Homo sapiens: one gene and its partners. The protein of the gene in region 1 purifies or fractionates together with the protein of each later gene. This does not show direct contact. Each region holds a gene or a part of one and is shown in the gene's direction. Other genes may lie near its edges. The genes, in order: TMEM108, SFXN5, POU2F2, SLC25A23, RRN3, SLC25A24 and ACAD10.

The links.
Region 2: the proteins of TMEM108 (region 1) and SFXN5 purify together in Homo sapiens (affinity purification with mass spectrometry; 2 studies listed by BioGRID and IntAct, with this or other methods). This does not show direct contact.
Region 3: the proteins of TMEM108 (region 1) and POU2F2 purify together in Homo sapiens (affinity purification with mass spectrometry; 2 studies listed by BioGRID and IntAct, with this or other methods). This does not show direct contact.
Region 4: the proteins of TMEM108 (region 1) and SLC25A23 purify together in Homo sapiens (affinity purification with mass spectrometry; 2 studies listed by BioGRID and IntAct, with this or other methods). This does not show direct contact.
Region 5: the proteins of TMEM108 (region 1) and RRN3 purify together in Homo sapiens (affinity purification with mass spectrometry; 2 studies listed by BioGRID and IntAct, with this or other methods). This does not show direct contact.
Region 6: the proteins of TMEM108 (region 1) and SLC25A24 purify together in Homo sapiens (affinity purification with mass spectrometry; 2 studies listed by BioGRID and IntAct, with this or other methods). This does not show direct contact.
Region 7: the proteins of TMEM108 (region 1) and ACAD10 purify together in Homo sapiens (affinity purification with mass spectrometry; 2 studies listed by BioGRID and IntAct, with this or other methods). This does not show direct contact.

What each region holds. Positions count from the first base shown.
Region 1 is NC_000003.12:133,387,604-133,391,802, forward strand, and holds part of TMEM108 (transmembrane protein 108 isoform 1 precursor), read left to right. Parts: intron 1-2,576; coding exon 2,577-2,731; intron 2,732-4,199. UniProt on the Homo sapiens protein: Transmembrane protein required for proper cognitive functions. Involved in the development of dentate gyrus (DG) neuron circuitry, is necessary for AMPA receptors surface expression and proper excitatory postsynaptic currents of DG granule neurons.
Region 2 is NC_000002.12:72,946,165-72,950,363, reverse strand, and holds part of SFXN5 (sideroflexin-5), read left to right. Parts: intron 1-4,199. UniProt on the Homo sapiens protein: Mitochondrial amino-acid transporter. Transports citrate. Does not act as a serine transporter: not able to mediate transport of serine into mitochondria.
Region 3 is NC_000019.10:42,125,566-42,129,764, reverse strand, and holds part of POU2F2 (POU domain, class 2, transcription factor 2), read left to right. Parts: intron 1-4,199. UniProt on the Homo sapiens protein: Transcription factor that specifically binds to the octamer motif (5'-ATTTGCAT-3'). Regulates IL6 expression in B cells with POU2AF1. Regulates transcription in a number of tissues in addition to activating immunoglobulin gene expression.
Region 4 is NC_000019.10:6,439,107-6,443,034, reverse strand, and holds the end of SLC25A23 (mitochondrial adenyl nucleotide antiporter SLC25A23), read left to right. Parts: intron 1-875; coding exon 876-1,060; 3' UTR 1,061-2,971; downstream 2,972-3,928. UniProt on the Homo sapiens protein: Electroneutral antiporter that mediates the transport of adenine nucleotides through the inner mitochondrial membrane. Originally identified as an ATP-magnesium/inorganic phosphate antiporter, it also acts as a broad specificity adenyl nucleotide antiporter.
Region 5 is NC_000016.10:15,083,971-15,088,169, reverse strand, and holds part of RRN3 (RNA polymerase I-specific transcription initiation factor RRN3), read left to right. Parts: intron 1-1,715; coding exon 1,716-1,805; intron 1,806-1,911; coding exon 1,912-2,041; intron 2,042-2,471; coding exon 2,472-2,531; intron 2,532-3,464; coding exon 3,465-3,528; intron 3,529-4,199. UniProt on the Homo sapiens protein: Required for efficient transcription initiation by RNA polymerase I (Pol I). Required for the formation of the competent pre-initiation complex (PIC).
Region 6 is NC_000001.11:108,133,774-108,137,972, reverse strand, and holds the end of SLC25A24 (mitochondrial adenyl nucleotide antiporter SLC25A24), read left to right. Parts: intron 1-1,135; coding exon 1,136-1,320; 3' UTR 1,321-3,930; downstream 3,931-4,199. UniProt on the Homo sapiens protein: Electroneutral antiporter that mediates the transport of adenyl nucleotides through the inner mitochondrial membrane. Originally identified as an ATP-magnesium/inorganic phosphate antiporter, it also acts as a broad specificity adenyl nucleotide antiporter.
Region 7 is NC_000012.12:111,737,775-111,741,973, forward strand, and holds part of ACAD10 (acyl-CoA dehydrogenase family member 10), read left to right. Parts: intron 1-4,199.

The sequences.
Region 1 (4,199 bases):
AGCAAGTTCACCTCTCTAGGTTTCCATGCCCCACCTTCTAGAATAAGAATGTAGGCTGGGGGAAGGGGCTGATTTGTTTCAGCACCTACTGTGCACCAGGGACAATTTGAAGTGCTGGCAGATGTATGACTGCATTTAATCTTCCCAAGGAAGCTGACGCTGAGAGAGGTTAAGTAACTTACTCAAGTCATGCAAGTAATAGATTGTCACCTAGATTCTAATTCTAAATTCGATGTCCCTTTTGCCCTATTGACTAGGCCTAAGATGGCATCTGTCACTTTGATTCTGTTTGCTTATAACTGCTCAGTAGATCAGAGGCACAAATATCTTTCTACCTTAGAGAGGCGTGCAAACTATACAAATCTGACTCACAGATACACTTTTCCCCTGCCAGCCTGTGTTCTGTGTCTATGGCAGTGTTTTGTGGGGCATGATGGGATGTGCCCCTACAGGCTGATAACTGAAGAGCTGTTCTGTTTGTCCTGATTGCTCCCCTCCCTCTAGCTCTAACTCTACCAAAACTGAGCTGGAGCTGAGGAAACAGCACTTTTCCCACTTCCCAGATGGTTCCCTCTTTATGGCTTCTGTCACACCAGCTAGAACTCCTCCAGGTGTTTCACCATGCCAGCTGCAGGAGCAGAGTGAAAGGTAGTGACAATGAAGAACAGAGACACCAGAGAAGGGGACAGGGGACCCGGGATCTTGTCCCAGCTCTGCCACTCACATACCTGTGACCTGTGGCAAGGCGGCCAGCACTTTAGGCCACAGTTTTTCCTCTAGAATAAGGAGGCGGCCTGAATTAGCAAGTTTCAGGCTGAGCACCACAGCCCCCTCCTTGCCCCTTTCCTCTTCAACCATCTGAAGAAAGGGTTTTTTGGAAGGAAGGGAGGGAAAGAGGAAAGAGATCCACAATATTTGAAAAGTTCTGTACCAGCTAATCTCTCAAATCCCCGTTAGCCCTAACACTCAGAAATTCCTTCTATGTTTTAAAGATTTTTTAAAAAGGATCTAGAAGACTGAAAAGCAAATTAGAAGTCTTTTTGATCAAAGCAGATAAGATAAAGTAGAAACTTACCCTATCTCCTAACCTTGTACAGAGACCTTTCCAGGTTGAGAGGCCAGCAAGGCTGGCAGCTGGAAAGAAAGCTACAGAATTCCCCAGGCAGCCTACAGGGCCCTGGGCTCTGGGCTGTGAGGTCTCAGCCTATACAGGTGCCAGCTTGTGCAACTGCCCCACACCCTGGCATGAACCCACCCCTGATGCTGGCCAGACCCTCAGGCTGCTGCGAACAGAGCTGGCCCTCTGCCAACCCCCGGTGCTGGCCTCTCTGGACAGCCCAGCCTGGGACCCCGACTCCCCAGCACAGAGATGGTTGGCACCACCAGGATGTCAGATGTGGCTCTTGGCTTCAGCTCTCCTCATCCCCAGAGGCTCTGGTGATGATGAACCTGGGGCAGGATATACTCAGTCCTCACTTCATGGCTTCTCCCCAAGAGGCCTCTGTCACCCTTGTCCTTGTGTTACCCTTCTGCAGTGTGAATCTGGACAGGCCACCCCACCTCTCTGACCTCAGAAGCCTTCCCTGCTCACAAGCCACTCAATTCACACATGGTTAATCAACAATATCGAGACATAATTCTTCCTCCTGGGCCCTGGGAGTCTCAGGGATGAACAGACAGGGTCACATGTCACACTGTGCTCAGTCAAGCTGTGTGGAGCCCACCTCAGGCCATCTGTGCAGGTGGGCTTTTGCATCAATCTAAGGCAGGAATCAGCTGGTAAGAGCATAGACTGGCCAGGTGCAGTGGCTCACACCTGTAATCAATCCCAGCACTTTAGGAGGCTGAGGCAGGCGGATTACCTGAGGTCAGGAGTTCGAGACCAGCCTAACCAACATGGCAAAACCCTGTCTCTACTAAAAATACAAAAATTAGCCAGACATGGTGGCAGGCACCTGTAATATCCCAGCTTCTTGGGAGGCTGAGGCAGGAGAATCGCTTGATCCCAGGAGGCAGAGGTTGCAGTGAGCCAAGATTGCGCCACTGCACTCCAGCCTGGGCAACGGAGCTAGACTCCATCAAAAAAAAAAAAAAAAAGAAAAAAAAAAACCATAGACTTTGGAGTCCAGATGTCTGGGTTTGCTTTTGGGCCTATCACTTTACCTCTCTGAGCTTCAGTTTTCCTATCTGTAAAATGGGGATCCTAACAGTACTGACTTTATGGGGCTAAATAGAGGATTAAATGAATATTTCTATGTCCTTGGAACCATGCCTGGGACGTAAGTCCTATATAACTATTAACACAGGATTTTTTGATGATGATGATGATGATGATAGTACCAGAAAAGCTATTTTATCAGCATTCAAGACTTCTGCCCCGTGATTTTGCTCTGTGAACTTCTGCTGTAAAGGTCTTCTGTGGAATTAAGGCTCACTTTGTACAGTTCACCATGCCCTGCCCCTTTTCCCACCATACACTTACTCCAGCTGGGAACTCTCCTCATCAGTTCGGTGGTGCAACCCAGGCACCATCCTTGCTGCCTCCCTCTCCTCTCTGACTTGCACTCTCTCCATAGCTGTCCTGCTGACGGTGTGCTGCATGAAGAGGAAGAAGAAGACCGCCAACCCGGAGAACAACCTGAGCTACTGGAACAACACCATCACCATGGACTACTTCAACAGGCATGCTGTGGAGCTGCCCAGGGAGATCCAGTCCCTTGAAACCTCTGAGGTAATGAGCTTGAAAGTGCTGGCCCCACTGCAGGGAAACCAGGTCCAAAGAGAGCCATGGGGCATCTGCTCATTTCTGAGTGCCTTGCTCCTTAACGTATGGCCCATGGACCAGCAGTATCAATAACACCCAAGAGGTTGTAGGCCCTACCCTGGTCCTACTGAGCCAGGATCTGTGTTTTAGCAAGAATCCCCAGGTGCTTTCTGCACAGTAAATTTTGGAAGCACTGTTCCTGGGACTTTTGGTTTCTGGGAACAAGTGAACAAATACTCAGTGAGGACCTGTTTTGTGCCGAGCACTCCCAGGGCACTATGAAGATGAGAGCTTGCTCCTAAGGGGCTCAGGTTCTGAGATGTGGCTGGAGGACAAACCCCAACATCACCCAAAAACAAAGCCAATTAGGGGAAACACAAACACAGACGAGTTATAGACAAAGAGCTGTGGAAACCCAAGGAGGAAAGCCTTCCCAGTGCAGATGCTAGGAAGGATTAATGGATTTCAACAGGCATTCCAGCAGAGGAGGTAGCCTGAGGAAAGGTGAGGATACGTGCTGGATCTGAAGGGAAAGAAGAATACACTGTCAGCATATTTGCCCAAGACACCTGGCTGGTCAGTGAGTGAGCTGAGCTTTGAACCCAGGACTTTAACCACAGAATCCATACTCTTTCCATCCTCACACGGAGGGTGGCGTAGAGGCCAGAGTGAAACAGTAAAGAAGGATAAAGGCCCAATTAGACACAGCCTTAATGGGGTATTATGGCATTGGGACTCTAGTTTGGGGCAGCAGAGAGTCACTGAAAGTTTTGATCTTTGGGTGACCCAGTTTTAGAAGGATTATGCTGATGGCCTGGTGAAAGCACCCTATATGTGATCAGCGAATGGATAAGGAAAGAAAATAATGGCTTGATGGATGAGTAAATAGATGGAATGACACAGAAAGACAGACTAAAAATAGGTAGCTCAACTAGGATGCAATTGAGATGGCCCAGGAGAAAGATAACAGACATCTGAGTAAGGCAGTGAGAGCTGAGAAGAGTTCTTGTGGAGGTGCAACCCCACCCCTCCTTCCCGTGTGGGTCCCTTCCCCAGAGCAGCCAAGGTGAGCTTTTGTAAACATAACTGTGGTCACATCGCTCACATGCTTAAAACCTTCTCATTTCTCTCCAGTTAAAGTTCAAAGTCTTGTATAGGACCTGCAAGGTAGACCTAGACCCAGGCCAACTTTCCAGCCTCACATCACACCCCTCTCCCCATCTTTTGCTAAGCTCCAGCCACACTGGATTTCTTTTTGTTCCTTCACAGCACCAGGTTACATCACACCCACTCCAGGTGTGTGCATGGGCTGTCGCCTCTCCTACAACATCTTCAGGCTCTCCCCAGCACCCCCTTCACTTGCTCACCTCAGTGACTCCAACCCATCCTGCTGCAGGGCCCAGTCTAAATGTCACTTCCTCAGCGAGGCCTTCCT
Region 2 (4,199 bases), on another chromosome or scaffold:
TGGGGGTCGGACAATGTGGACCCCAGGCAGTCACTGAAATCCAGTTGCCAAGACCAAAGCCTCTCAGCCCTCACTGGGACAACTCTCAGAAAACTCTCTCTGACGCTCATGGCTGCTCAGTGTTTGTGGCACCCTCTGTCATTACGTTCGCTCCTCGGGCTGGTCCCCCAAGGCCACCATCACAGGCTTGTTCCCTCCGCTTGCCCTTCAAATGTGCCTGTTCCCCAGGCCTTGGCACCCACCCCTCCATCTGCTTCCCTGGGCGAGCTCCTCCACTCTGAAGGATCTGGCTATGCTCACACATCCCGGGCGCTTTCTCCTGCCCAGAGCTCCAGAGCCCTGGACCCATCTGCCTCCCAGGCCTGTCCACCTGGGGAACCCACTGGCACCCCAGACTCCATGTGGCCATCCTGAGCCTACCACCCCCAACCCTGGCCCATCCCCTCCCATATTCCCTCCGAGAATGGCGTCACCAGCCACCCCAGCTCCTGAGCTAGAATTAGGAGTCATCCAACGCACAGTCATCCTCAACACCTCCCTCTCACCCCCACGTGGAATTGGTCATCAACTCCTGTGGATTTCATCTTCAGAAAGGCTCCTCCTGTCTTCCCCCACTGGCAGCATCATAGGGCAGGACCTGGCACTTCTCTGATTCCCACAGATGCTCCCCAGGAGGCCTCCCCACCCCCTCCTTACCCCTCCAGTCCATCCTCCACACCCACCATCCCAAGAGAGACCTTTCTAAGACAGTCTAAGGCCAGGCACGGTGGCTCATGCCTGTAATCCCAACACTTTGGAAGGTGGAGGATCACTTGAGGCCAAGAATTCAAGATCAGCCTGGACAACATAGCGAGACCCTGTCTCTGTAAAAATTTTTAAAATAATTTAAAAATTAGCCAGGCATGGTGGCATGTGCCTGTAGTCCTAGCTACTCAGGAGGCTGAGGCAAGAGTTTGAGGCTGCAGTGAGCTGCAGTCACACTACTGCACTCCAGCCTGGGTGACAGAGCGAGATCCTATCCCAAGAAAAAAATAAAAACAGAGGCTGGGTTATGGTCCACTCCTGCTCAAAGTCCTTCTGTGGCTCCCTATTGCCCTCAGGTAAAATGCTGACACCTTCATGTAGCCTACAAGATTCTGCCTGTCCCAGCCACACCTCCATTTCCTGCCACATTTCCAAGTCCAACATTGCCCCGCCTCCCAGAAACAGGCCATGCTAGCCAGCTAATATTTTTTTCTTCACCCAGCAAGCTTGGCCTGCCCTTTCTGATCAAAATCCTCCATTCTCTTCCTGGCTCACCACCTCTGAGAAGTCTTCATTCCTTGTTCCCTTATCAATACATTGGAACTCCCAACCCCTCCCCAGTTGCCATGGCACTCTGCTTGTCTCTCTGGACTCCATCTGCATTCACCAGCCAACTCCTCTCTAGACTTTAAGCTTCTAGAGGGCATGAGTTGGTCTTGTCCCCCTCTGTGTGCCCAGCCTGGGTGTCTGGAGTTGGTGACCATCAACATCTGCTGACAGGAGGGTGGATTGACTTGAGAGAGGAAGCCTAGGATGTCAGCTCTGTCCTGGGGCCCCTGCTCCTGATCCCTCAGCCACCTCCCCCAGGAGCCTTCCCACTGCCTGCATCTCCCCCTGCTCCTACCTGCTGCCCTGTGTGTGGCGGGGAGCCCATGGGAGACGGGGTGCCAGGAGGAGGAGGCCTCGGTCTCCCCCGGGCCAGCATGCTCTAGGGAGTGGGCACAGTGGGCCGTGGCCCTGGGCCGTGGTCCTGCATGGTGGTGCTGAGCAGCCTCTCTGATTTTAATGTGGGCCTCAGTGCTTCAGTGAAAGCCGGCATGGGAAGTTGCTAATAATGGCACTAAAATAAAATATGCTACATCTGTTATGGGTAGCAGAACAAAATTAGCTGCTCACACCTCTGACATCCAAGATGTCTTAACTTAAAATACTCCTTGGCTTACTTTACATCATTTACTGATTATATTTAAAAGAAATACAATTTTGCAATTACTGTTCTTTCCAGCGTGATATCTATGCATCATTTTCCTTTTATGTTTATATATTTCTCCTTCATTAGTGCAGTCTGAAGGGTGATTAGGATTCTTCAAACATTTTACAGAGGTTAAACGTTGATTAAGATTTAATTATTACTGTAAATAGCTTGGAATGACATATGGTGCAAAAGCCTGACATATGTGCATTTGAATAAATGAAGTGCTATTTCCCAGGATGCCTCAGTAGCTGTTTAACAGCTTTCCCGAAGGGTTATGTTACACCTCATGGTAAGATTGCTGGGATGTTATATTTTGTTGGTTTTTGCAGCTGAAAGCTAAGAACAGTTTTCCAGTTTTTTAAAAACATTGAATATTTTAAATACCTAAATTGTTTTGCACAAATTTTTGCTAATTTGTCTAACTAGGTTAAACATTTTCAAAAGCATTTAGATTTTTAAGCGTGGGCGCTGTGCATTGTGTCAGTGGCAGCGTGGGGACGAGGGGAGCCGGCAGGGTGGAGGGGACTGGGGGTGGCAGGGGTGGGGTGGGAGAAGGTGGTTTGAGAAGACGGAGTGGCGAAGAGGCCTGGGCCCTCAGCCTGGCTCTCCTCTGTTTGGCCCTCTCGGGTGACCAGACTTGGGTAACGGGGTACCAGCGACTACAGAGGAAGGGTCCTCTCTTCTCCCACTGTGCCCACCAGCTCTAGTCCTCACTACACTCCCTCTTATGGGGACTCCAATGTGCACAGCCCAGACATGACAGAGCTCTCCGAAGGCCAGGCTGGCCTGTACCACCTTCTGCCCACTTCCCAGGGTTGCCACATCTTGACATATGGCGGGTGTCTAGAACCAAGTTCAACCAACCTAAGTTGCAAGAGGCCTGGTGCCTCCTTGACTCTGTCCAGGGCAAATGTCCGGCGGGGACCTTCTCACTGCAGTAGTGTCTTTCTCACCTGCCCCCCTCTAGCTAGGGGCTCAGGCATCCCCACGGGCTCAGTCCCTGGAGATAAAGCCCAACATCGGGGCTGATGTGGTGTCTCCAGGGGAACCCCGTCTTCCAGTGCCTATTCTATTCCAGTGCTCTTTTCTTTCTGCCCATGTATTCCACACTGAGGGAGCACCTACTGTGGACCAGCATTGTGCTAGGCTTTGAGGACACAGGGGCGAGACAGATCCGCACGTCCGCTGCCTCAGGGAGCTTGTGATCTAATGTGGAGAGGTGGGGTATGAGAAGTTCAGGGAGCTATGGGGGCCACAGAGGTGGCCACGCCCAGCGTAGGGGAGGGAAGGTGTCTAAAGCTGAGACACGAAAGATGATGAGCTGAAGACGGGAGAGCAGAGTAGGGGCAGGAATGGAAGTAGGACGGGGTGTCTCTGAACAACTCAGGCAAAGACTGGAGTGGGGACAGAGCCCAGGGTGTGCGAGGAACCAAAATCAGTCCATGTGCCCTGTGTCTCCAGTCCAAGGAGCAGGGTGGCGCGGGAGTCTGACTTGATCCCTGAGGATCAGGGTGCCATGGAGCCATTTCACAGTGAAGAGAGGCATGGGAAGACTTGCAGTTTAGAAGGCCGGCACTGGCTGTGGTTGGGGACGGACTGGGCTGGATGAGACCTTGTGGGGAGGGACGGGGAGAGGACGCAAAGAGGCTCCAGAGTCTTTGGGCAGAGCACCACTGGATGGCGGCGTCATTCCCGAGATGGAGAGCTGAGTGGGGCCAGGGGAGAGGGCAGGTTCAGTTCCATTTCAGGTGGGTTGAGTTCAGGCGCCTGTGAGACATCCACAGCAAAGTTTGGCAGGCAGGCGGCTGTGAACCTGAGGCTCCAGGGAGAAACAAGGCTGCAGAAATCTTGTGTGGGGGTAACCCAGGGCATGTGCAGAGAAGAGGGCCCAGCCAGACCAAGCCCCAAGGACCCCGAGGAGCATGCAGTGGGTGTCGTGAAGTGGGGGGTGGCAGTGACCTTGGAGAGAAAGATTTTTCTGGAGTGTGGTGAGAACAGAAGCCAGATTTACTGTGGGTTGAAAAGTCAGTGGGAGGGAAGGAGGTGGACACAGCCAGTGTAGACCAAGTTTTTTAAAGAAACGTGGCTGCTGGGGAGGAGAGAGACCAGGTAGTAGCTGGGCCTGCCTTGGGATGAAGGGGAGGTGTCATCAGAGAAGGTTCCTGCATGTGGAACACTAACGGGCAAAGGTGGGAGAGAG
Region 3 (4,199 bases), on another chromosome or scaffold:
GACAGCTGTGGGGTGGGGAGGGGTGAGGTGCTGCTTCTGGGGAGGACGGGGGCTCGGCCAGCTGGGCCCACAGAGGTTCCCGGCAGCACCAACCTGCCCACAGGGGCTCCCAGGCCATACCCCTAATTGAAGCAGGCTGCGGAGGCAGGGGACCCAGGGGACAGGACAAGTGGGGCCAGGAGGGGTGAGGGGCAGTCCTTGGGCCCTCTATATTTAGCCCCGTTTTCGGTAAGTGCTAACGAGAAGCTGGCCTAAGTCTGCTAAAACTGGCGGGGGGAAATGCAGAGGAGAAGTGAAAGTCCGGGGAGGGAGGAGTGGGAGGGTGGAGAGGACCAAGAGTCCCAGGCCTGGGGCAGTCGGGCAAGTGAGTGTGAGCTCAGGGCTGGGCAGCCCTGGTTGAGGGGTGTCTGACCTGAGGAAGGTGGGATTCAAGGGGCAACATGGCTCCAAGGGGCCTGGTAGGGCTATGCATTGCTTTTTCTCTTTCAGTTCCCCTAAAATATTACACATTACCTATGATGAGGGGTGGGAATAGCCATACATAACCAACCAATCTTTTGTGTGTGAATGAGGCTTTGAGAGGGGCTTCTGAAGGTGCCAGGGGATGGAGCACATTAGAATCACCAGGAGGGGGCTGGGTGCGGTGGCTCATGCCTGTAATCCCAGCACTTTGGAATGCTGAGGTGGGCGGATCACTTGAGGTCAGGAGTTCGAGACCAGCCTGCCCAACATGGTGAAACCCCGTCTCTAATAAAAATACAAAAATTAGCCGGGCATGGTGATGCATGCCTGTAATTGCAGCTACTCGGGAGGCTGAGGCAGGAGAATCGCTTGAACCCAGGAGGCAAAGGTTGCAGTGAGCTGAGATCATACCATTGCACTCCAGCCTGGGCGACAGAGTGAGACTCTGTCTAAAAAAAAAAAAAGAGAATCACCTGGAGGGGCTTTTAAATATCTGGATGCCCAAGTCACACCCTGTACCACTGAAATCAGAGTCTAGGGTGGGAACAGGCATCAATATTTTTCTAGAGTTGAGTGATAGGCGATGGGCATCTCTGCCTGGGCTCAGGCTGAGGCTGAGGCCGAGCCATTTGATGGACCCTCCAAGTCTATGATTGCTAGTGCCCTGGAGTCCCTGTTAAGGCGTCATTTGGCTTTTAGTCCACGGTGGAAATGGAGCTCCCTGTTCATTCCTGGTGGAAATGATCTGACCCTTCTCTCAGATTGAGCTCTGACAGGGGAGGTGGAAAGAGAAAAGACAAAGGGCAGCAGTTGGCCATTTTGTTGTGACCCAGCCAAGTGTGGGGCAGGGAGTATGCAGGGATATGTAGGAGTGGTTGGGATAATTTAGGGAGAATAAGGGTAACAGAATGGTGAAAAATTTCCCTCAAACCACTCTTGTCTTTCCAGCCACAGTCTCTGCAGAGGAAATCATACCTTAAAGATTTAAGTTAGGGTTTCTTGGGGATGTTGGGTGACAGTAGAGATAGGGGTTTGTTTTAGACAGGATTGGGCCCTGGTCAGTTAGGGGATTCTTTAATGCATTCATTCATTCCAAAGACGTACTCCTAGGCCTGTGCAGCAATGACTCCAGCCTGGGCTCCTGAGGAGCCCACAGTTGGGGTGGAGGTCTCTGCCCAGGATGATCAGGATGTGGTGGAGCACAGTACAGGGTCAGTGAAGCCCAGAAGAGAGAGACACTGACCATCTGGGGAATCAGAGAGTACTTCACAGAGGAGGTGACATTTGAGCTGGACCTTAAAGAGGAGCAAGAGTTTGCCAGTAGAGAAGGAAAGGGTCACCCAAGTGGGAGACGAGCAGAGGCAAAGGCCTGGGGGAGGGAGATCAGGACCTTGGGGCCACTGATCCACATGTCTTCTGCTGGGGAGTGTTTAGGAACCTGAGATCAGATCTGCCCTTGAAAAATTCCTAGTCTGATAGGGGAGACATAGTGGGGCCCGGCTAGCTACAGTCAGCCTCTAAGACAGTGACAAGGGAAGGTGCTAGGGTATGGGGAGCTGGAGAGAGACCTGGCTGGGAGCTGGGGGCATCAAGGTGGTGGTTTCATAGAAAACAGAGCTTATGGCCGGGCGTGGTGGCTCACGCCTGTAATCCCAGCATTTTGGGAGGCTGAGGTGGGCAGATCATGAGGTCAGGAGATTGAGACCATCCTGGCTAACACAGTGAAACCCCTTCTCTACTAAATATACAAAAATTAGCCAGTCGTAGTGGCGCGCACATGTAATCCCAGCTATTTGGGAGCCTGAGGCAGGGAATTGCTTCAACCCAGGAGACCTCTGGAGCTTGCAGTGAGCCGAGATCCCACCACTGCACTCCAGCCTGGACAACACAGCAAGACTCCATCTCAAAAAAAAAGAAAAGAAAACAGAGCTTATGCTGGGTTCTGAAGGATGAGTCCGGGGGTCGCCAGGTGGACAGATTGGGGAACAGTGTTCCAGACAGAGGGAACAGCCCATGCCAAGGCCTCAGGAAATGTTTTAAATGGCAAAGTGCAGGCATGGTGGCTCATGGCTGTAATCCCAGAACTTTGGGAGGCCAAGGCATGAGGATCATTTGAGCCCACGAGTCTGAGACCAGCCTGGACAACATAAGGAGACCCGTCTCTACAAAAAAAAAAAATTTTTTTTTTAATTAGCTGGATGTGGTGGTGCACAGCTGTAGTCCCTGGATGTGGTGGTGCACACCTGTAGTCCCAGCTACTCAGGAGGCTGGGATGGGAGGATAGCTTGACCCCAGGAGGTCGAGGCTGCAGTGAGCCGTGATTGTGCCACTGCATTCCAGCCTGGCCGACAGAGCAAGACTCTTGTCTCAAAATATAAATTAAATAAAATAAATAGCAGGGAGACAGTAAGACAAGGGTGAGAAGTAGTAGGAAACAGAGACTGCTAAAGAGAGGGACATTCAGCAGTTACAACCCGTTCTGGGCTTGTGATGCTGGGGACCCAGTGATGAGTCAGACCAGGCCTGTCGCATTGGTCTTGTGGGGAAGGAACCTGGACACAGACAGCCACAACTGGGGGCTCAGGGATGGGACAGCAGGAGGGCAGGGGCTGTGAGAGGCTTAGTTTGCTAGGGCTTCCACATCAAAGTACCACAGACTAGGTGGCTGAAATAAGAGAAATTCATTTTCACAATTACGGAGGCTGTAAGTTAAAGACGAGGATGTCAGCAGGGTTGGTCTCTTCCAAGGCCTCTCTCCTTGGCTTGTGGTCCACTGGTCTTCTCCTGGGTCTTCATATGGTCTTCCCTCTGTTCCCATCTGTGACCTAATTCCCTCTTTTTCTTCTTTTTTTTTTTTTTTGAGATGGAGTCTTGCTCTGTCACTCAGGCTGTAGTGCAGTGGCACGATCTCGGCTGCCTGCAACCTCTGCCTCCTGGGTTCAGGTGATTCTCCTACCTCAGCCTCCTGAGTAGCTGGGATTACAGGCACACACTACCATGCCCGGCTAATTTTTGTATTTTTAGTAGGGGTAGGATTTCACATTGTTGGTTAGGCTGGCCTCAAACTCCTGAACTGGTGATCTGCCCACCTCGGCCTCCCAAAGTGCTGGGATTACAGGCATGAGCCACCGCGCCCGCCCCCTCTTCTTATAAGGATGCCAGTCAGATTGTAGTAAGGTCCACCCTAATGACCTTATTTTACCTTAATTACGTCTTTAAAGACCCTATCTCCAAATACAATTACATTTTGAGGTATCAGGAATTAGGACTTCCGTGTATGAATTTTGGTAGATGCAACTTAGCCCATAGCAGAGGTTAAGGATGAGTGTGGACTTTCTGGGCTGGCAGTGGGGTCCGAGGCTGCCCTGTTCTGTGGACGGGAGAGGGATGCCCAGCTAGGTGGGAGTGTAGAACCTGCACAGCCTGCTGTCAAGCAGACCCCCAAGCAGGGGGAGATGCTCGACATGGGTGAAGAGCACTGTGCATGAGCTGCAAGAGAAGAGCAGTACAGGGTGGTGGGCCAGCCCCTGGAGGCCAGGTTGTTTATTTCTCCAGGAGATAGGGAGGAGCCAGGAAAGGATTGCCCTGAGGCAATGTGGAGCTCCGCTGGAGGGACGGAGGCCAGAGGAGGCTGGGGCTGCAGTTTTAGGGATGCTAGGAGGGGTGGGATTTAGGACCGGGTTAGAGTTAGTGGCTGCCTGAAGTAGGGCTAAGGTCTGGGTGAACTAGAGCTAGGA
Region 4 (3,928 bases), on another chromosome or scaffold:
CCCAGCAGGCATAGGTTGCAGTAAGCCAAGTTCGTGCCATCGCACTCCAGCCTGGGCAACAGGAGTGAAAACTCTGTCTCAAAAAAAAAAAAAAAAAAAAGGGCTGGGCATGGTGGCACACGCCTGTAATCCCAGCACTTTGGGAGGCCGAGGTGGGCGGATCACCTGAGGTTAAGAGTTCAAGGGCCGGGTGTGGTGGTTCACGCCTGTAATCCCAGCACTTTGGGAGGCCGAGGCGGATGGATCACCTGAGGTTGGGAGTTGGAGACCAGCCTGACCAACATGGAGAAACCCCGTCTCTACTATAAATACAAAAAAATTAGCCGGGCAAGGTGGCGCATGCCTGTAATCCCGGCTACTTGGCAGGCTGAGGCAGGAGAATTGCTTGAACCCGGGAGGCGGAGGTTGCAGTGAGCCGAGATTGCACCATTGCACTCCAGCCTGGGCAACAAGAGCGAAACTCCGTCTAAAAAACAAAAAGTGGGTGGAGGGCAGGGAGGAGCCTGACTTAGACTGGAGCACCAAGGAGGAGTCCCCTGGGGAGCTGGCTCTGGGATAGGGGTTGGGAATATGAGTAGGAGTCAGCTGGGAAAGGAGGGAGGGAACCTGGCTCCAGGAGGAGGACATTTCTGTCCTTTCTCACCTTGCACACCCATACCTGCTCCATTTCTAATTGTCCCCAAACTTGGGGCGAAAAGGTGAGCAGCCAGTTCCAAGGTCAATACAAGTCTCGACTCTGAGTGGTAGGTCCCACTGTTAGTCTAACCTCCTTCCCTCCTGCTGCAATGACACCACCTGGCCCAACCCTGGGGGTAGGAGGGGGAAGTGAAAGGGGAACGTTGGCCTTACCTGGTGCCCCCCCCGCCCCCTCCCAGCCTCCATCGAGGGTGGCCCCCAGCTGTCCATGCTGGGTCTGCTACGTCACATCCTGTCCCAGGAGGGCATGCGGGGCCTCTACCGGGGGATCGCCCCCAACTTCATGAAGGTTATTCCAGCTGTGAGCATCTCCTATGTGGTCTACGAGAACATGAAGCAGGCCTTGGGGGTCACGTCCAGGTGAGGGACCCGGAGCCCGTCCCCCCAATCCCTCACCCCCCACACCTCAGCCACTGGAGACTGATGATCCAACCACAGGATCCCTACTCTTTGGCCACGAGATCCCAGTACCCAGATCCTGGATCCTAGACTCCTATGCCCCAACCATTGGGTCATGGGATCCCAGCATCCAGATCCTGGATCCTAGACTCCTATGCCCCAACCACTGGGTCATGCGATCCCCACCCTTCAGCCACTAGATCCCAGATCCCCCTGTAACCATAACTGTGGATCCCTTACTTCAGCAACTCAAGTCTGCTACCCTAACCACAAGATTCAAGATTATCCACACCCCAGCCCTTAATCCCCATCCCCCAAATCACTGGATCCTGCAGCCCCACATCCTAAGGTGGATCCCACGCTTCCCTGTGCCCCCTACTGGATCCTGGACCTCTACGTCTTAACCACTGGATCCCACACAAATCAGTGAATGGATCCCAACACCCCAACCACAGGAGCACGGATTCCCTGTACCTCAACACCCAGACCCTGCCTCCCTCAGGCACCAGATCCAGTGTCCTAGTGAAACGCTGGATCCTAGATCCCCAACCCCAGATCCCCATGCCTCGAGCCCTGGATCTCCAAGCTCAGCTGCTGGATTCTGGATGTCAACAAACCTCACCACTGGATCCTGACAACCACAATGCCTGGATCCTGGGGCCCCCATCACTGGATCCCAGATCCCCTCACTCCACCCACTGGATTCCTGCATTGGTTTTTGGTTTTTTGTTTTTTTTTAACCTCGACACTGGGTCTCAGATCCTTCTGCTGACTGCCAGATCCCTGCATTTCAAGCACTACGCCTTCCACCCCCAGGCACTGGATCCCAGATTCCCAAGCCTTCACCCACCAGATTCTGGCTCCTAAAACAAGTGCGGGGGCCCCAGTGGCACAGCAAGTGGATCCTGGCAACTGCAGCTGCTGGATTCCAGATTCTGGGTCCCCAATCCCTCTGCCCAGTCCCTCAATGTTGAAACCTCATCTCTTGAAGGCAGATCCTGATATTCCAAGGCACTGAATCCCAAGCCCTGAATCCCCGGTTTCTGATCTGAATCTTCCAGGCGCCGGGTCCCAAATGTTCAGGCCCCAAGTCTAGATCCTGGCAGCCCAGTCACAGAGTATCCCACACACACTGGTGCCCAGAGCCGGCTTCTCATGACATGAAATTGCATGGTCGAGGGAGTCTGTGGGGAAGGAAGCCCAGGTCCTGGCTGCAACCTGCACGGATGCTGGATTCCCCCTCACCCCACCTCTGCATGGCCACCCCCTCCCAGCCCTGTGGGGAAACTGTTCCCTGGAACCACTCCACTCCCTGCATCCCCACACTTCACAGCATCTTCCATCCCCCTCCCACCTTCTAGGCGAATAGTCCCCAGAGCTGTGTTCCTCCAAGGGGTCCGAGGAATCACTCACTCCTGGAGGCTGGCAAGGAGACAGTCTGAGGCCAGGGACACATGAAGGGATGTCCCCACCCCAGCACTATCAGGGCCTCCCCAGGCTTCCAGAGTTGAAAGCCAGGAGAAAATCGGCAAAGACCACCCTTCCCTAAACCCAAGCACCCAATGATGCAAAAAACAAAAACAAAAAAAAACCACCAAATCCCCAAATTCATTCCAGATCTATTTTTCTACCAGAGAGAGGAGCAAAGTCCTCCTCCCCTGCGCCCTTACATTCTGCACTTCATAGTTGGATTCTGAGCTTAGGATCATCTGGAGACCCCATGGAGGGACTTGGAAAGGGGAACTGGGATTTGGGGAGGGGCTGGAGGACTTCCGCACGCTTCCACCTCCTTCGACCTCCACTGCGCCCCACCTCCCTGCCTGTGTGTGTTATTTCAAAGGAAAAGAACAAAAGGAATAAATTTTCTAAGCTCTTTTATTGTGGTTTTTACTGAAAAGGGGGTGGGTGGCTATGGGACCACCTTAGTCTACCCCTAGGGAAGGGACAAGGGGCTGCTTCCCAACACCCACAGTTCCAAGAGCCAGGAAATGATTCCCTCTTTGAGCCTCAGTTTACACATCTATAAAATGGGAGCAGGGGAGGGAGTCCCTGTTTATAACCCCTTCTAAATTTTCTGGGCTTTATTATTTTTATTTATTTATTTATTTTTGAGATGGAGTCTCACTCTGTTGCCCAGGCTGGAGGGCAGTGGCACGGTCTCAGCTCACTGCAACCTCTGCCTCCCGGGTTCAAGCGATTCTCCTACCTCAGCCTCCTGAGTAGCTGGGATTACAGGCACCCACCACCACGCCCGGCTAATTTTTTGTATTTTTAGGAGAGACAGGGTTTTACCATGTTGGCCAGGCTGGTCTCGAACTCCTGACCTCAAGTGATCCACCTGCCTCAGCCTCCCAAAATGCTGGGATTACAGGCGTGAGCCACCACGCCCGGCCTCTGTATTTTTTTTCAAATTACAAATTTCAATTTTTTTTCAAATTATCCTTTTCCTAGGGCTGCCAGACCAAATTATCACAAACAGAATGGCTTAAAACAATTTGTGTGTCTGTGTGTGTGTGTGTGTGTGTGTGTGTGTGTGTGTGAGAGAGAGAGAGAGATAGGATCTCACTCTGCAGCCCAGGTTAGAGGGTAGTGGTACAATCGTACCTGACTGCAGCCTCGAATTCCTGTGCTCAAGCGATCCTCCCACCACAGCCTCCTGAGTATCTGGGACCACAGGGACCGCAGGCACACGCACCGTTATGTCCAGCTAATTTATTTTTGAGACAGGGTCTCGCTCTGTCACCCAGGCTGGAGTGCAGTGGTGCGATCTCGGCTCACTGCAGCTTACACCTCCTGGGCTCAAGTGATCCTCCCACCTCAGCCTCCCAAGTAG
Region 5 (4,199 bases), on another chromosome or scaffold:
TCAGTACTAAAGCATCAAAGTCTGCAACTGATTTACTTTTTTTTTTTCTTTTTGAGACGGAGTTTTGCTCTTGTTGCCCAGGCTGGAGTGCAGTGGCATGATCTTGGCTCACTGCAACCTCTGCCTCCGAGTTTTTTAAGCAATTCTCCTGCCTCAGCCTCCCGAGTAGCTGGGATTACGGGCATGCACCACCACGCCCAGCTAATTTTGTATTTTTAGTAGAGACGGGGTTTCTCCATGTTGGTTAGGCTCATCTCGAACTCCCAACCTCAGGTGATCCACCCACCTCGGCCTCCCAAAGTGTTGGGATTACAGACATGAGCTACCACGCCCAGCCTGATTTACTTTTAAAAATGGTACAGTTTAAATGTTATCCTTATAGTTTTGTTGCAGTCTTTTTAGTGGAAAAGAGATAGGATAGTTTATTTTATTTGTACACTAACTTAGCTTGTTTTCTACATGCCTTTGGCCTTAGTGAGCTACCGTTAATGTTATCCTTAACAGTTGTGGACATATGAAATTACCATAGTACAAATGAGTTGTGGTTTTACTTTATTTTACTGCCAGGCTACTTGGGATTTCATCAGAAAATGGTTGATCTGTGGGAGTTTGACACATGGATATGGCATAGTAAGCACTCAGTAGCTGAATTAAGGTGGGGAAAAGGGGACAGCTTCTTCTCCGCATATAGGGAGGCGTGTGGGACGGTGGACAGAGGATAGCCTTGACCGAGACAGACGGGTTTGGACCTGCTTCTTTACTGGCCTCTTGGTTGGGCAGATTGCTTATTAATCGTTCTTAGCCTCAGCTTCCTGAACAGCAAAATGGGAATAACTAAACATCTTGCAGAGTTTTTAGGATTAGAAGAAGATATATATGTGGAGTGTCAGGCACCATGCCTGGCATATGGTGTATTCTCACTAAATGATAACTCCATATGAATATCCCTGTAGGTATGACCTTGTGTTGCTTTTATTTATATGTCTAAGCCTTCCACAAATTAGGGGCTTTTTCTTAATGGTTTTTTTCCTGTGCAGTATATATGCATGAATATAATTAATATAGTAATATTTTACATAATTGACACTGTATTTTATACATTGCGTTTCAAATTTAGCAGTTCTTCTCATGTCACTAACAATTACTATGAACAGTAATTTGATTGCCCGAAAAATATTTCATGGAGGAATGGGGCTATCATTTATACAGAACAATCACATCATAATATATTTAAACTCAGCCACAGGTTTGGTTTAGAAAAGTTATGTTTATTCATGACCCCAATTGATCAGCCTCGACTGAGTTTTATCAGCATGCTTCCTGGTCAGCTTGAATATAGAGGAAATAGAGGTAGCTATTGTTCCTTTGTGATCTTCTAATATTTCAGTCTGCTAGAATGCTGCAGTTTTTAAAAGTCCCAGGTGTCAACATTTGAGGTGATTTCGCTTTTTCAGGGCAAACAGAAGTGATCAGGCTGAAGTATTGCATTTAAGTCTTTCTCCTGTGTATTAGAGTTACTAGATTACTTTCTTAAAACAGTTAAGTAATTTATTGTGACATCTTTTTCTGTTTTAATACCCAGTTTTGAGTTCCTTCCAAGTTTGTGACCTTTTCCCCCCAACCTATTCTTGATAAATGATTGATATAAGATAGCTGTAAATTTCTGTTATGTTAGAGGATTTGTGATTTTGAAAGTACTCTTTGTTTAACTTAAGGATGACCAGATCATCAACTGGCTGCTAGAATTCCGTTCTTCTATCATGTACTTGACAAAAGACTTTGAGCAACTTATCAGTATTATATTAGTAAGTTCACCATTTATTTTACTGTAAAGTATGTAATTCAGAACTTTGGTAATAGTATATGTTATATTAATAACATGCTGCTTTTATCTTTCTTCCCCCACTCTAGAGATTGCCTTGGTTGAATAGAAGTCAAACAGTAGTGGAAGAGTATTTGGCTTTTCTTGGTAATCTTGTATCAGCACAGACTGTTTTCCTCAGACCGTGTCTCAGCATGATTGCTTCCCATTTTGTGCCTCGTAAGTCATTGCTTGGAATTTTATTTTCTTTTTAATACTTCTTTATTAAAATACTACCTTCCCCTTATATATGAGAGACTGCTACCATGGAAGATTCCAGATGCATATTGGCACCAGGTCTGGTAGACATATATTCCCCGTAATGACCCCTATGGAGGTGTCTAGATTCATTTGTTGCTGTGAGTTTTATGAATTTATTTGCTTTATTGAACTCCTGGTGAAATCTAGGAATTTTTAGCCGTTTAAAAACTATAAAGTTGCTTTACTTTTTTTCAGATTGTGCGTTTAATTAATCATTGGGCTAACTTTGGATTATGGAAAAATAACTTTTTTTATAGCTGTTCATTGTCTAGGTCAGTAACTTTTTTTGTATAGCCATTCATTGTCTAGATCAATGACAGAATAACATATTTTCTTTTTCCCTCAAAAGCCCGAGTGATCATTAAGGAAGGCGATGTAGATGTTTCAGATTCTGATGATGAAGATGATAGTAAGTATAAAAAGGTTTAAAGCCTGGGCACAGTAGCTTTCACCCATAATCCCAGCACTTTGGGAAGCCAAGACGGGAGGATCACTTGAGGCCAAGAGTTTGAGACCAGCCTGGGCAACATAGTGAGACCTTGTCTCTGCAAAAAAACATTTTTTTTCAAATATTTTCTTAAAAAAGGCTTAAAGTAGAACTAGGCAGGGTAGTGTGTGTCTTTAGTCACAGCTACCTGGGAGGCTTAAGTGGGTGGATTGCTTGAGCCCAGGAGTTCAAGCCCTGCTTGGTGGCAAGACACTGTCTTCTTTAAAAAAAAAAGTAAAGCACAGAATACCTGGCACCTATTCTAATAAGTAGACTGCAACAAATGACAACCTTTGATGTAATCTTTTTGTTATATTTACCATTGATATGCAGTCATTTGTCCTGAATGCATTATTTATATAATTAGTCCATTTAATTTTCGTTGATGCTGGTGGAGAAAAATCTTGAAATTATTATTTCTCTGATAAATTATTCCGTTTTGGTTAGCATGTGTTTTTAGCTTCAAGTATGTCACTTTTTGTTTGTTTGTTTTTTGAGACAGAGTCTCGCTCTGTTGCCCAGGCTGGAGTATAGTGGTGTGATCTCGGTTCGCTGCAGCCTTCACCTCCCAGGTTCAAGTGGTTCTCCTGCTTCAGCCTCCTGAGTAGATGGGACTACAGGCATTTGCCACCATGCCTGGCTAATTTTTGTATTTTTAGTAGAGATGGGGTTTCACCATATTGGTCAGGCTGGTCTCGAACTCCTGACCTCAGGTGATCCACCCACCTCGGCCTCCCAAAGTGCTGGGATTACAGGCGTGAGCCACTGTGCCCAGCCAGCATTTATTTTTAGCTTCAAGCGTGTCGCCCTTCAGTTTTGTTTTGATGCTCATACTCTGAACTTTTCTCCTTTCAGATCTTCCTGCAAATTTTGACACATGTCACAGAGCCTTGCAAATAATAGCAAGATATGTACCATCGTGAGTATACTTTTCCTTATTTTGAATGTTTAATTCTCAAGAAAATTGTAATCAATTAGTAAAAATTATAAAATGTTAATAGTATTAAAGCTTGAGTCTTACATTGCATGTTTTTTTTGTATCCACTTGAGGAAACATTACATTCTACAAAAAGTGGCATTTCCATTTTCTATTTATTCTCTTTAATTGTTTTTCAAAGTTTGTATGCAGATCCTCCCCCAATTTTGTATGGTGGTTGGAATTTTGCTTTTATCTTCAACAGATATGCTATCCAAAATTTTTCAGTGAGAAACCCCTGGGTGTGTTTGTGTCATGCCATATGAATAAAAATTGCACTTCTAAGAAAAGCTTTTCAGGTTTGTGGGTTTCTTTTGGAGGGGTGGACCTCTAGTTCCCTCTGTCCGTTGATTATTTGTTAACTTAAAAAAAATCCAACTTGATGATTTTTTCTTCTTTTAAAAATAATATACATGTGTAGTGGGAAATGTCAGCAAAAGTGCTGTTATGTTTCTGTGGGAGAGAAGCTCCCTCTTTGATTTGCTGTTGATATCAGAGTTAACAGAACCTTATTTTCTCTAAGTCGTTATAGATTTTCTCAGAAGCTATACATTGTAAGTTCCAGTTCTGGCCGGGCGCGGTGGCTCACGCCTGTAATCCCAGCACTTTGGGAG
Region 6 (4,199 bases), on another chromosome or scaffold:
AAGACACTGAGGCAGGCACCAACATGGTGTATTTAAGGAGCTGAGAGACAGTCATGGCTGTAGAGAAAAACACAAAGTAGTGAACTACACGTTTCTTGTGTATTCTCTCATTTCACCATCATAACCATCTTGGGGATGGGAATACTAACATTATCCCCATTTTTCAGATGAGCAACTGGGGCAGAGAGAATTTAAGTAACTCCCACAAGATTATACCTGTGGTAAATAGTGGGACTGAAATTCAGACACATGCAGTCTGATTCTAACCCTCCTGTCTGCCAGCTCTGATCCAGAACTTTGCATGACTGATACGGCTGATAGATTGTCTATGGCTGATAGACTGTCATTTCTGACCTAAAAGTCTGATCATTTTACATCTGTTCAGACATCTTTGCAGCCTTTCGGTGTCAGTTCCAAAGTTGTTAGTGGGAATTTCAAAGCCTTTAATAATCTAGCCCCACTTTGTTCACTCTCTGTGTAATAACCACATACAACAATTGGCTGCATCTCCATAGCACATGGTACTCCTCCCGTTGTCTTGGTTGTGCCAGCAACACTGGTTTTCGCTTTCTCTTCCTGCTTGTTGAGGTCATTTCCAAGGCCCAGGTCTTTGTGCTTTTTCCCAAGCTTCCCAGAGCTTCTTCCATACTCCCCTTACTTCCTGAGATTTAACTGTTCTCTCTTCAGCGCTTGTCTAGTAAGAAGGAGGCAGCAGCAGCACTGTGGGGTGGTGGAAAGTGTACCAGCTTTAGAGTCAGACCATTGGATCTCAGCCCTACCATTTTCTACTTAGATTTTTTTAGGACAAATTTCTCCATCTTTCTAAGCCTCCAATTGCTCACTTACAAAATTGATATAACATTTACCTTGCAAGATTGGTATGGAAGGTAATTAACCCAGTATTTAGAACATAGTAATTAATAAATAACTATTATTACCATCATTACTATAGTTAGGACACTCACTGTTAGGTGCTATACAAAGAGGATCATAAAAGGGATGTTGTCTTGGGCTTCTTGGAATAAATGTTGTCCTTTTACTGTATTTTAGAATATCATTCTGGGTCATAATTGTTTGTTGTCATAATAATGAAACATACTTGAATATTAAATTACCCTCTTTTTTTATTTTTTAGCCATGTTAGAAGGTTCCCCACAGCTGAATATGGTTGGCCTCTTTCGACGAATTATTTCCAAAGAAGGAATACCAGGACTTTACAGAGGCATCACCCCAAACTTCATGAAGGTGCTCCCTGCTGTAGGCATCAGTTATGTGGTTTATGAAAATATGAAGCAAACTTTAGGAGTAACCCAGAAATGATGTTGCATTTTTTGCTTTAGCCTGATAATTGAAACTTTCAACAATCTCTGGAGTGACTTTTTCTCCTCGAATTGAAACAAGTCTATGGCAAAAGAAGCTGCATTTTTTTCACAAAAGGGAAGATGGTAACAATGGTCACTTCAAACTTTTGGGCTAAATTATATGTACACAGAAATGTTCAAAATCATAGTTTTAATGTGTTTTGAAAAGGCCACACAATTATACTTTATCTTTTCTTAATAATCCTGCAAATCTCTGCCCTGAATCCGAAATCTGAAAATGTACTGGCTTGAACAAAATTTGTTTTGTGTGTTAGAGTTATAAATCATTAATCTTTATTTCGGGTGGTTTACGTTTATGCCAGTTCCTTTATATTTAAATTTCTTGTTTTATATATTTTGAATGTCTTTATAGATTTCTTTAAATTTCCTTATAGAACCATTAATAGAAAATCATTACATTTAAAATATACCTTACAGCAAAAGCATCCAAATAAGTATAGGGTTTATGTCCTTATTTTTCTTTCAGCTGAATACGAATGAACACAGTGGTGGAATTTCTGAAGGGAAGTGATGAAATTATATTTATTTCAGTGGGCACTTTTCCATTTTACCACTGTACCATTATTTGGTTCCTGGAGTTATACACTAATTTTCAGTATATTACTGTTAAATTACCAACACAAGGCAATTTATTTGAAAGATTCCGTTTATCCTGCCATTGCTTTGAAAAGCAGCAGGAAACGAAATCCTTTGACTTGTATCAGCTTCTGCAGAGCATCTTTGTTTTCCTTTGTCCTTTGTTTCCTACCTTTTGAATCAGATTCCGTTTTAGTCAGGAAGACTTCTTGGGACCATTCTTAGTAACCTGAAATTTCTTTTTTAATTGCATGAAGTGGATTGATCATGAGCAAATGATGTGCTTATTTCTCCCTCACTGTTGAATATCTTTGAACTTGCTGTTTTCAATATGGGCAGCACAAAGGTGAGAGATACATATTAATAGTAGTATGTATTACTCTTATACATTAGATACCTATATTTAAATGAAAGGCCCAATTTGTAAACATATACATTCATATTCTCTCTTGCCCCAAGTTTTAGGAACATGTTAGGATATAGGAGACTTAATTTATAATAATGAGAGCATTTTTTTATTTTACTAAAGCCATTTTTATAGTCAACTATCTTTTCTTATTTGTGTGATTAGAACTTAGAAAAATATTTACTAGTTGAAGTTATTATCAGTTTTTAATTTAGTTCTTAAACTCATTTCACTTCTAATAATTTCTGTTATAAATTTCCAGCATTTTAATGAAAATCTAATGATGTAATAGGCATTTTCTTTATTTGAACCTACCTCTTTTATTTTCTGAACCAAAGAGAAAGATGGACTGGTGTTTGTGAAACATTTTTAAAAATGTAGTTTCATTTATATTAGTTATGTTTGATAAATGTCTCAGTATTTTTATAATATGATAAGCCTGGGATTCTACTTTTAGGGTTATTTGTACTTTTGAGTAATATATAAAGTGACAATATTAAGGTACATGATCAGCTCTTTCTATTTTTACTCGTAAAAATTATGGAAATGAATAATTTTGCTAACAACTTTGAAATTTCAAACTTCTGGAAAATATGAAAATATTCATTGTTCATTATGAATTTAAATTGTAAGGTATGAATGTGATTTGTCTGTACATCTTGTATCTTTTCCAAAAAATGATTCTGTATCTTTTGGAAAAAAGCCGAGAGTTGAAGATAGTATATTTCTGGTAGTACTGAATATTTACTTACAGTTTCTATCAAAAATATATATTTGTTTCTAAAATTACTTGTTTTCCAGTTTTTATTTTTTTTAGAGAAAATTCTTAAGTCTCAGTTTCCTAATTGAAAAAAAAAAATTATAAATAAAGCAAAAATTGTATCCTACAGCTTAGCTAGCTTAGATGTTTGGCACCAGTTTGAATCATGCTTTTTACAGCTGGCTCCATGTAGTCTTTCCAAACATTTTGGCCTTTCCTGAGCAGCCCTTGTAGATATTGTCTGTATGATGCATTTTGACACAAGGTGATATTTTTTGTGATATCAAAATTCCACATTTACCCATTAGAGTTACAGCCCTGGGGTTCACAGTACCAAGGGGGACCCAGAGCCTCAGGATTGGCCAGGCTCATTTTGCCGTGGAGTATCAGTTTGTCTTGAAATTGTGGGAAAAAATTCTAAGTTGAATTCACTGGTAAGTAATTTTTTAAAATTTCATAATGCAGATTACATCCAAAATTTGATTTAAAAATTAAAACATAAGACTGCAGAGAAATTCTGCATTTCAACTCCAATACTATCCAGACTTCAGAAATAACTTATCAGTTATTTCTGTAAGCTTCTTGCTTACCTGGATACCTGACAGGTGAGATGGCTGTAGCAGACACTGGCAGTTCCCTGCCCACACACCTGTCCCTGTCCACAGCTGCACAAGGCAGCTCTGTGTGCAATTGCCAGCATCTGCTCCTCTGTTCTCAGGGAATCTTTGTTAGAAAAATGCTGCCATATTTGTTTCTCACCTATTAGTCTTGTCTCCCAGTCAAGAGAATAAATTTATGCAAGCAGAGATTGTACTTTACAGTATTTTGTCTTTGAGCTTGGCATTATGTTGCATTTGTAAAAATGTGGCATGGCTTCCTCATCCCCCAATAGGAACTTTGCCAGCCCTTTTGTTCTCATGGAACTTCCTTTTTTGAAAAGAGCACCAAAGGAGTAAAAATACTGTGGAGGGAGCAACCCTCCTTTGCCATATGCTCTCATTGGGAGACATGTGGAGCAGTCTGAAGTCATTTAGGCCACTCTCTGGGAGAGCACATCCTATGATGTTCTCCCAGC
Region 7 (4,199 bases), on another chromosome or scaffold:
AAGAATTTCTGTGAAATATGTGTGTGACCATTTGCATATTTAACAACTATATGAGGCAAATTTCTTGGTGTGTGTGTGTGTGTGTGTGTGTGTGTTGAGACAGTTTCTCACTCTGTCGCCCAGGCTGGAGTGCAGTGGTGCGATCTTGGTTCACTGCAACCTCCACCTCACCAGCTCAAGCAATTCTCATGCCTCAGCCTCCCAAGAAGCTGGGATTATAGGCACATACCACCATACCCGCGTCATTTTTTTGTTTGTTTTTAGTAGAGATGGGGTTTTGCCATGTTGGCCAGGCTGGTTTCGAACTCCTGACCTCAGATGATCCATCCACCTCGGCCTCCCAAAGTGCTGGGATTACAGGCATGAGCCACTGAGCCCGGCCAGTCCCCAAGTCTTTAGGTAAAACCCCTGTGGTCTTTGACAACTTCCTTGCTCGCTAGTATGACAAAATGTTCCAGGTTCATCTTGTCTATCCAGCCTACCCAACATGGTGAAACTGTGTCTCTACTAAAAATACAAAAATTAGCCAGGCATGGTGGCGGGTGCCTGTAATCCCAGCTACTTGGGAGACTGAGGCAGGAGACTCACTTGAACCTGGGACGGGGAGGTTGCAGTGAGCCGAGATCGTGCCACTACACTCCAGCCTGGGCGACAAGAATGAGACTCTGTCTCAAAAAAAAAAAAAAAAAAAGACTTGGGAGCCAACCTGAACAGGCTCCCACTTGCTAACAATAGGAAACTTTGGGCATCACCAAGGATGATAGCTGAAATGGATGAAACACATCAGGTATGTTTAAATCCATGAGTAGTAGCCGGGCATGGTGGCTCAGGCCTGTAATCCCAGCACTTTGGGAGGCCAAGGTGAGCAGATCACTTGAGGTTAGGGATTCAAGACCAGCCTGGCCAACATGGTGAAACCACATCTCTACTAAAAATACAAAAATTAGCCAGGTGTGATGGCGGGCGCCTAAAATCCCAGCTACTCAGGGGACTGAGGCAGGAGAGAGAATCACTTGAACCCAGGGGGCAGAGGTTGCAGTGAGCTGAGATCGCGCCTGTGCACTGCAGCCTGGGTGACTGAGCAAGACACTGTCCCCCCAAAAATAAAAATTAAATAAATAAGTCCATGAGTAGTGATACAAAAACAAAGAGACAAAGTCTCATTGATGACCTCAGAGGTTGCCAGGAAAGCAACTTATTATTCTGAAAATTGGAAAATGGGGTGGGGGGGTGGGGAATCAAGCATTTGTCCTGTCTTTCCTGTACAAATGATACTGCAGGCTATCCAAATAATCAATGAGGGAATGTTTCTCTCTAGAGAAGTATCCTGGACAGAATAATATAGAATTTGCATATCACCAATTTGCAACTCCTAATGCATTAATGGATGTGGGCAATAAGCTTCAATGAAAGCCAACACCACTGAGAGACAGACAGCCAGACATTATATACCTCCTGATGCTTCCCTCAAAAGTTACACTGACTCTGCCCAGGTCTCCAGTGCTAGCTGCCAACTCATGGGAAACACAGGGTTCAGAGGGACATGTTCAGCAGCACCCTGGGCACAGCACTCACAAAATCCAGATTCTGGAAAACATCACAGGGCAAACAACTCAGTTTCTTCAAACACTTACATTTCAAGGGGAGGAAAAGGGTGAAAAAGGAACCTGTAGATTGAGAGAGACTTAAAAGAAACATCAGGCTGGGCGTGGTGGCTCACGCCTGTAATCCCAGCACTGTGGGAAACCGAGGTGGGTGGATCACCTGAGGTCAGGAGTTTGAGACCAGCCTGGCCAACATGGGGAAACCCTGTCTCTACTAAAAAATATAAAAATTAGCCAGGCCTGGTGGCGGGCACCTGTAATCCCAGCTACTCGGGAGGCTGAGATAGGAGAATTGCTTGAACCCAGGAGGCGGAGGTTGCGGCGAGCCATGATTGCATCACCGCAGTCTAGCCTGGGCAACAAAGTGAGACTGTCTCAGAAAAAAAAAAGGTGGGGGGAGCGGGGAGAGACTTAAAAGATACGTTAGCCAGTTACAGTGTTGGGACCTTATTTGGATCCTTTCTTGAACAAATTATTTGGAAAAAATTTTGATGATAGTCACTGAAACTTGAATTCTGAGTGGATAGTCGATGATATGAAGAAGTTAACAGTTAACGATTTTTTAAGGGTAATAATAGTATTGTGGGTTTTTTAAAAAACATTTGTTTTTAGAGTTTTGAAAGAATCCTAGATGAGATATTTGGGATTTACTCCAAAAAATCCAGGACAGTGGGAGTGGGGATGGCAGGGAATGAAACCAGACTGGGCTGGCATCGATCATTGCGGAAGGCGAGCAGTAGAACCCGTAGGCTTGTTATTCTCTCCTCTCTACTCCTGTGTGTCTTTGAAATTTTCCAAAAGGAGGCCAGTCATGATGGCTCACGCCGGTAATCCTAGCACACTGGGAGGCCGAAGTAGGTGGATCACCTGAGGTCGGGAGTTTGAGACCCCTGGCCAACATGGTGAAACCCCGTCTCCACTAAAAATACAAAAATTGCCTGGGTGTGGTGATGCCGCCTATAATCCCAGCTACATGGGAGGCTGAGGCAGGAGAATCACTTGAACCCGGGAGGCAGAGGTTGCAGTGAGCAGAGATCGTGCCACTACACTCCAGCCTGGGTGACAGAGCAAGACTCCATCTCAAAAAAAAAAAAAAAAAGGCCAGGTGCGGTGGCTCATGCCTGTAATCCCAGCACTTTGAGAGGCCGAGGCGGGGGGATCACGAGGTCAGGAGATCAAGACCATCCTGGCCAACATGATGAAACCCCGTCTCTACTAAAAATACAAAAATTAGCTGGGCTTGGTGGTGTGTGCCTGTAATCCCAGCTACTAGGTGTCTGTAATCCCAGCTAACTAGGGAGGCTGAGGCAGATGAATAGCTTGAACCAGGGAGTCAGAGGTTGCAGTGAGCCGAGATTGCTTCACTGTTCACTCCAGCCTGGTGACAGAGCGAGACTCCATCTCAAAAAAAAAAAAAAAAAAAAGAAAAGAAAAAGAAATTTTCCAAAAGCAAAACTTAAAAACAAAAGGCAAGGAGAAAGAAGGAGAAAGGAATTCATCATGGGATTTGCTAGTGCTGATGGAGTGTTTAGCTTTGCAGTCAGTGACACCCCAAGCTTGCTGGCAGCCTGTGTTCTCAGCCAGGTTGCCAGAGTCTTCTGAGAGAAGCAGTTGCAGTAGGGGAATTGATCATTCATTCCCAAGTATATGAGCCTCTACTAAAAGCCAGCACTGTGCTAGGTGGTCCTGGAGATACACAGTCATGAGAAAAACTGTCCGGAGAAAAACCAGTACCCAGAGAATTTCTAGTTTAACTGTACCTGGTCTGATAAGCAGGGGATGCTGGAAGCAGGAATTTCTGGAAACAATATTTTCCCTCTTTTAGGAAAATACAGTATCAGCTGTAAGCCACTATTTCCCATTTTTTTTATAGTTTTCCAATAAACACTAACCAGAAATATTTACTTAAACAGAATGGCTGCTAAGTCCTTATGGTGATGAATAGTCCTGGTCACCTCTGATATTTCCTAGCCGGCTGCCAAGTTTTCTCCCTGCTCTGCTCCAGTGACCTGGGAAAAGCTTAATAGACTGCCCATTTTAGAGTCTCCACACTGAGTGTCCTCAGCCTGTCTCTCAGGAAGCCCTTTGACATGTTTTTAAGATCCTGTGAGCCATCGTTGTGGCTTCTGGTTTCTCTCGGCCCAGAGCTAAAACACCCCACCTGTTTGCCACCAGACAGAAAAATGTCTGTTTGTTCAGGCCTTTATTCCTCTTATCTTACTGTGCACTCCTTTCCCTCCCTCTGGGAAGCCAGCCAGACACACTGAGGAAATGGCTTAGTTTTCTCATGTAAAAACAACAAAATCCATTTTTTGAAAGAATAATATAAAAACGTATGATGAATGGGGAAAAAACCAACTATACAAACATAAATATTACTTCTGTACATTTGTCTTCTACAATTAGCTTTAAAATCATTTTTGTTTGAACAGCTGAGATATTTGGTACTGGCCAGGAAAACTGGAGCTTAGAGAAGGGGTATCTGTTTCCAAGACATTCTCTCTATGGTGTCATTTACAAAAGACTTCAAATCAGCATTAGATTGGGAAGGGGATGAGAGAGACCAGAGCCCAGTGAGCAGAAGATTAACAGTAT